2 linked regions of the Homo sapiens genome follow. Changing the gene in region 1 together with any one later gene gives a genetic interaction. Each region holds a gene or a part of one and is shown on either strand. Other genes may lie near its edges.

Evidence for each region.
Region 2: changes in MASTL (region 1) and LARS1 together harm fitness more than expected from each alone (negative genetic interaction), as found in Homo sapiens cells (one large-scale study listed by BioGRID).

The regions. Positions count from the first base shown.
Region 1 is NC_000010.11:27,154,067-27,158,151, forward strand, and holds the start of MASTL (serine/threonine-protein kinase greatwall), read left to right. Parts: upstream 1-1,285; 5' UTR 1,286-1,360; coding exon 1,361-1,546; intron 1,547-4,085. Other genes in the region: ATP-dependent zinc metalloprotease YME1L1, read right to left, coding at 112-144. UniProt on the Homo sapiens protein: Serine/threonine kinase that plays a key role in M phase by acting as a regulator of mitosis entry and maintenance.
Region 2 is NC_000005.10:146,155,151-146,158,650, reverse strand, and holds part of LARS1 (leucine--tRNA ligase, cytoplasmic), read left to right. Parts: intron 1-855; coding exon 856-923; intron 924-1,022; coding exon 1,023-1,248; intron 1,249-3,500. UniProt on the Homo sapiens protein: Aminoacyl-tRNA synthetase that catalyzes the specific attachment of leucine to its cognate tRNA (tRNA(Leu)).

The sequences.
Region 1 (4,085 bases):
ACATCACTTCATTTCTAGAGTCCCTTCTGAGAAATCGCTTCCACGAGCGCAATTTGCAAACAGCCACGGGCAGGGCGGGAGGAAAAAAAATGGGCTGAATGCCTGGCTTACCTGGGGTTGCACCGTGCTCGACAAGGAAAACATCTCCGGCGGGCCCTCAGCGACCTCACCCGCCTGCCGAAACTGTGCCCCTCTGTCCACGGCCCGGCGGGGAGGCGCTGAGCCCTTCTTTTTTCCTTTTTCTCCGACCCGTTGCCCCTCACTCCTCCCAGAAACGGAAAATGGCCTCCCCTTCCTACAGCTACTGCAACGACAGACAATCCGCCCCGGAAGGCGAGGCGCTAACTCAACAGTACTTCCGGGGCAAGTGAGCGCCCACAAGGCCAAGTGCCTGCGCGTTCTTTCCCGCGGAAGTAGTTGACATTTACAAGGAGCAGCGCCCCCAAAGGTCTTTAGCTGTTTTTTAAGGGGAGAACAGCCTTTACCCTCTTTGGACTTTTTCTTCGTTTTTTTTTTTTTTGGAGACGGAGTTTCGTTCTTTCGCCCAGGCTGGCGTACAGTGGCGCGATCTCGGCTCACTGCAACCTCTGCTCCCCGGGTTCAAGCGATTCTCCTGCCTCAGCCTCCCGAGTAGCTGGGATTACAGGTGCCCGCCACCACGCCCGGCTGATTTCCTCTTAAGACTTTCTACAGCTTCCTTATGAAATCTTCTGACTGGGCCTTGAGCAATAAGGTCTTTTGCTACAATTTAGTGCTCTTTTCCTCACACTAAATCGAAAACTCTCCCTGTTGGTCCTGATCTGTTTCAGTCAGGCAAATTACATCCTGGGAAAACGTCAGATGACAGGGGAGGCCACTCGCTTCCTGCTCATCCAGTTTCGACACTTTCTGTGCTTTCATTAGCTTCCAGACCTCAGCCCTGGCCCTCGCTTTACTGTACAGTCAGAACTGGTTTCTACGCCTCGCGAGGGTGGGAGGTCGTGTATGGGAGGAGGACCGCTTCCCACCAGCCTCGTTGGGAAGCCAGGAGAAATCTCTTCAAATCCTGCGATTCAGAGTCAAGTCCCAGTCGTCCTTTTTCTGGTCGGCCCAGAACTGTTTGTGCCTCCTCCCTCATGAGGAATGATGTCAGTGGGGCCGCGGTCGCCGCCCACGAAGAGTGTAAGGCTGCGAAGTCGGGGCTTTCCCGACGCCCCCTCCGTCCGCGTCTGCGTAGGGGAGGTGACGAGGGCGGGGCGCGGCGGCGGGGTGACGTCACGGCCGCGCGCGGCGTGGGCGGAGCCTCACTTTGAACCCAGTTGGCGGGAGTGGCTGCTCGCGGAGGGGCAGTGTCTGCGGGGCCGCTGTATGCTGTCCAGCGATGGATCCCACCGCGGGAAGCAAGAAGGAGCCTGGAGGAGGCGCGGCGACTGAGGAGGGCGTGAATAGGATCGCAGTGCCAAAACCGCCCTCCATTGAGGAATTCAGCATAGTGAAGCCCATTAGCCGGGGCGCCTTCGGGAAAGTGTATCTGGGGCAGAAAGGCGGCAAATTGTATGCAGTAAAGGTAGGAAGTCAACGAGTAGCAAGGAAGGGGTTAGGCCCTTCGGCCCTCCTTCCTGCCCCACCGGCTTGGGCAGGCCCCGGGGTTGCTGGAGCGAGGAGTCTGGGTGGCCTGGCTTGCTGAAGCCTCCAGAGCCCTGCGAGCTGACTTCTTTTTGGGGCGACATCAGCGGTCGGGTCGGGTGTCTCGCCTCTGTTCCGCCCTTCCCTCCATATCTCAGATGCCCAGTGAGAACAGCAAAGTTTGACTCTCTTCTCCCTGCCCAGCGTTAGCAAATGAGGAAACTGAGGCCAAAGGCAAAGGGACTTGACCGAGGTGATTACATCGGTCTTAGTACAACAGGCACTTAAAGCCAAAGCCGTGATTCGTAGTCTCACCCTGGCTTGAGTTAGGTTTCTTTTTTATTTTTTTTTGAGGCGGAGTCTTGCTCTGTTTCCCAGGCTGGAGTGCAGTGGCGCAATCTCGACTCACTGCAAGCTCCGCCCCCCGGGTTCACGCCATTCCCCTGCCTCGGCCTCCCGACGAGCTGGGACTACAAGCGCCCGTCACCACGCCCGGCTGATTTTTTGTATTTTTAGTAGAGACGGGGTTTCTTTAGTAGAGACGGGGTTTCACCGTGTTAGCCAGGATGGTCTCGATTCCCTGACCTCGTATTCCGCCCGCCTCGGCCTCCCAAAGTGCTGGGATTACTGGCGTGAGCCACCGCGCCCGGCGAGTTAGGTTTCTAAATCCAAAAGGTTTTTAGTAATTAGTGGTTTTGTTTACCTTGTTTGCTTTGACGTGCAGAATCGTCGAAATTTTTCTACCACAGAAGAGTGATTAATCTGTAGGCACTGATAACTTTTTAAGTTTTATTCTTAACCAGAAGAAAGATTACTATTTTCTGAGAAGTCTTTAATAATTTTTTTTTAAGACAGTCTTTCTCTGTCGCCCAGGCTGGAGTGCTGTGGTGCAGTCTCGGCTCCCTGCAGCCTCTGCCTCCTGGGTTCAAGCGATTCTCCTGTCTCAGCCTCCCGAGTAGCTGGGATTACAGGCGCGCGCCACCATGCCTGGCTGATTTGTGTAGTTTTTTTTTTAGCCGAGATTGAATTTAGCCAGGTTGTTTTGGTTATGTTGGCCAGGCTGGTCTGGAGCTCCTGACCTCAGGTGACCCGCCCACATCGGCCTCCCAGAGTGCTGGGATTACAGGTGTGAGCCACCGCGCCCTGCCCTGCTATGAATTTTTTTTTTTTTTTTTTTGAGATAGAGTTTCACAGTGACGTGATCTCAGCTCACTGCAACCTCCACTTCCCGGGTTCAAGCGAGTCTCCTGCCTCAGCCTCCCGAGTAGTTGGGATTCCCGCCACCACACCGGGCTAATTTTTTGTATTTTTAGTAGAGACGGGGTTTCACCATTTTGGGCAGGCTGGTCTCAAACTCCTGAGCTCAGGTGATCTGCCCGCCTCAGCCTCCCAAAGTGCTGGGATTACAGGGGTGAGCCACCGTGCCTGGCCTTATGCTGGTTCCTTTTTAAGTGCTTTTCTTCTACCCTTTTGTGCTCTTCTCCACCTGTCTTATTCATGTATTAAGATTCATCTTAGCTCCCCTTCACACCTTCCCTAATCTTTCAGAATTGGAAGATCTGATTGAATTGGTTACTTTATATGTTCCTGAGATTTTTACTTTTCCTTCTACAGTACTTAGTCATGATCAGTTGAAATGAAAACACCAATCCATGTGTTCAGTCAGTATTTGCTTAGCACCCACCCTCTTTGTGTCTACGAACTGGACAACAATGGGGAACAAAACACACATGCCCTCATAGCCAGTGGAATGATAGGAAAAATCATGTTACCAGCTTGCTTTGTCAGTTTCCCTCAGTTTTCTTAAAGAAAGGAGTTAAGGCAGGAATTTATCATGTACTAATGATTTTATTAAGTACTCGAATAAATCTTTGAAAGAAATATGCCTTTTTTTCTTATAGCAGTCCTGAGAATTGATCCCAGTGTTACTGACTATTCAGTTTAGTGCTCCAACTTTATTTTTATTTATTTATTTATGTATTTTTAATTTTTCTTAGTGCTCCAACTTTAATAGTTCTGTTTCTGTACAGATTACCTTGAAACTTGAAAAGAGTAATTAGTTTTCTGTAAGACAGCATTTGGGACTGTTAAATTTCAGTAGTTCTAATCATTCCAACTTAAGATTTTTTTTTTCTAGGCAAACTTCCGACATTCTTCCTCTTTCTGATTCTATCCCCATCTATCAAAAAATCAGAAGTTAAAAAAAAAAATTAAGTAGTTACTCCACGCCCAGGTGCTAGTTATCTGTGGGCTTATGAGGAATGTAACTGTCTTTTGACTTCGTTATCAGAACAGTGGAACAGAATTTTTTTTCTATTAATATGCAGGGCAGTCTGGGAATATTTAATTTTTTTTCCTTCTTGAAAGAGATTATGATACTTCTGCCATTTAATACCAAGATAAGCAATTCTATCTTGAAGATTTTTTTAAACCGTCTTAACTATTTTTTGTACGTGCTTTCCTGATAGCAGTGTAAGGTC
Region 2 (3,500 bases), on another chromosome or scaffold:
TCATGTGCCTTCTTGCTTATTTCCAAAGTAATTCTAGCCATGCCTAGAAGTTCATTCTAATTCCTGTAGAACACATTATTAACATTATTCTCTGAAATACTTGAATAAATCAAGAGTAAGTGATTTGGCTAAATCCATGGCAAAGTAAAAATCAATGACAATGCCAGCATCTGAACTTATGATTCCCTATGATTGCATCATTTTTTATTACCATCTTTGAACATATTTTCAAAATCAGCCTTCAATTTTGATGTAACTTATCTAAGTGAGAGTTGATCAAAATTTTAAAAGATTTGAGAGACTTAAGACCCAGTAAAGTTTTAATATAGCCAATGGCAGCAATATCCTAGATTTCAGTAATCCTTTGTAGATTTTTCAAAGCATTTTTCATCTGTTATCTTGTGTGTTCCTCAGGACAGTCCTATCTGAGACGCAACATCCTTATTTTACCAATAAGGAAAGAAAGGCTTAGAGAGATTATGACTACCTTGGGTCTAACCATTAGTAAGGGAGCAAACTAAGTTTAGAAAGCACATTATCTCTGACCTCTGGTCTAGTGTCTTCCTTTGATGACTACTATGTGGGACATGCCCTGGGATGGAATTAGGGTTGATTGTGTCTTCTCACCTTCATTTTGGCAAACACTATTTTGGGCGATTACTCCAAATCTCTCCTAACGTACTAGACTTCTGTGTGGGTATAGTTAGCACACCACTGGCAATCTCTTCTCTGCAAAAAAAAATTAATAATGCAAGAACCCATTTTAGGGACTTGAATCAGATCTCTCACATAGATTAGTAGGTTTAAGGCAAGTCTTTTTTTTCCTTCAAATTTTTGTATCGTTTATTTGCTTAGGGTGTTGGACCTCAGGAATATACTTTACTCAAATTGAAGGTGCTTGAGCCATACCCATCTAAATTAAGGTAGGTTTGCCAGAGTAATTGCTTTATCATTTCTGAACCATCAGATAGTTGTTACAGAGTTGACATGTTTTTACATCAATATTTGTTTTTTTTTCTCAGTGGCCTGAAAGGTAAAAATATTTTCTTGGTGGCTGCTACTCTCAGACCTGAGACCATGTTTGGGCAGACAAATTGTTGGGTTCGTCCTGATATGAAGTACATTGGATTTGAGACGGTGAATGGTGATATATTCATCTGTACCCAAAAAGCAGCCAGGAATATGTCATACCAGGGCTTTACCAAAGACAATGGCGTGGTGCCTGTTGTTAAGGAATTAATGGGGGAGGTAAGTTGGATAGCAGATTTTTTATTTTAATGCGTAAATTTCAAGGAAAATTTCAACAATGAATATTGAGAAAAGAGCATTACAACCTTAAAAAATGAGGTGTACATGCAGTAAACTGTGTAAGTCTTGTGTGTTTTGGTGCATTTTCATATGTATATACACTTACGTAAACACCACCTAAATCAAGATATAGAACAGTTTTAGCACTCCAGAAGGCTCTCTCATGTCCATATCATTAGTACTCACCTCTCTCCTCCAAAGGTAACCACTGCTCTGACTTCACCAAAGATTAGTTGTTGTTCTTGAACTTTACATAATGGAATTGTGTAGTCTGACTGTTTTGTGTCTAGCTTCTTTTGCTTAACATTATGTTTGTGAGATTCATACATGTTGTAGGAATAGTTCTTTTTTTATTGTTGTGTAATATTCATTGTATGACTGTATCATTAAGATAGCATATTTTATTTTTAGGTTTCAACTCGGTAAATATCTGGTTGAAAAATATAGGCAGTCCTCCCCAAGAGATTTAATAGCTGCATTAGTCATTATATTATTTTAAAAATACTATTACCTGAATTCCTGGTAATACTAAATTTGGAATTGTAGCTGCCTTTTTTTTTTTTCATGTGAAGAAAGTCTTGGTTGATATTAATTAAATATGGATGGTTACACAGCTCATCTACTTTATTTTATTTTTATTTTTTTTTTTGTAGACAGTTTTGCCCTTGTTGCCCAGGCTGGTGTTCAGTGGCGCGATCTCAGCTCACTGCACCTCTGCCTCCTGAGTTCAAACGATTCTCCTGCCTCAGCCTCCTGAGTAGCTGGGATTACAGGTGCGGGCCACCACGCCCAGCTAATTTTTTGTATTTTTAGTAGAGACAGGGTTTCATCATGTTGGCCAGGCTGGTCTTGAACTCCTGACCTCGGGTGATCCACCCACCTCGGCCTCCCAAAGTGCAGGGATTACAGGCGTAAGCCACTGTACCCAGCCTTATCTACTGTATTATCAATATTTCTGAGTGTGTTTAATTCCATTTAGTGAATGCTGATCTTTGGTATCTTAAATAATTTTTTAAAAAGAAAAATATGAGTAGAGTACCATCTCAATTCTTTTAAATTGAACTATTTTATTCCTTATTTAATACTTTGATTGCAGTATATTTACAAGTCCCAAAATTCAAAAAACGCAAAAAGATACAAAAGTTCCCCATTCTAGAGGTAGTTAGTAATATCTGTGTCTTGTGTATCCTGGTAATATTTCATGTATACACAAGCGAATACACACATACTCTTTGTCCCTCTGTTTTTACACAAATGGCAATATACTTTATATGCATTGTACCACATCTTGCTTTTTAATTTGTATCTTGGCAATCATTTTGTCAGTACATAAACAGCTTCTTTATTCTTATTTTTTATAGCTACATAGTATTTCATTGTTTGGTTGTACCACAATTTACTTAACCATTCTCTATTAATGGATATTTGAATTGTTTCCTGCCTTTTTCTTTTAAAAGCAGCACTGCCACATCTCTTTAGTTCCTAATGTTGGAATTTTGTCTGAGAAGTTCTTGGGAACAGTATTAGGGACATACATGTTTTCCTATTCTTAATGCAACTTTTCTCCCTGTTAATTTGAGCAAATTCTGGCGTGAGGGACATGGATGTTATAAATTGCAAAATAGTTTCAACATTTAAAATGGTTATAATATTTAGCTGTCATCCATATGACTGCAAATTCTATAAAGGCAGGTTATAAGTACATATATGAATAAAGAGGGGTGGGTGGGAATTATGTGGAAAGGAAAAGTGTGTTCCTTAGCTAGAGCAAGAAGCTGCAAATTCTTTGTTGCCATCTGAGAATTTGGGTCTAAAATTGCTTAATCTTTTGGATTTTTTCAAGTGAAATTAGAACTATCCTTTTACTTTGTCTTCATAACTACTATTTTAAATAGATGTATAGTACCCATTCTTGTTCTTGTAACATATTTTGTTAAATCATTTTTTCTATCATTGAAAGCTTTAGTTGTTTCCAGGCTTTCCTAGTATAATTAACTCAGCATTGGGTAGACTTGTTTAAGAAAAAATAATTAGTTGTTGTTGAGTCTGAGTTACATGAACATTTTGTGGCTTTTGCTGTGGATTCCTATATTTTCTTCAAGGAGTACAATGTCACAAACAATGTATTAGTGTACTCATGTCATAATATTGACAGATTTAGTTATTATAATTATTAAAAATTATTTTTCCGG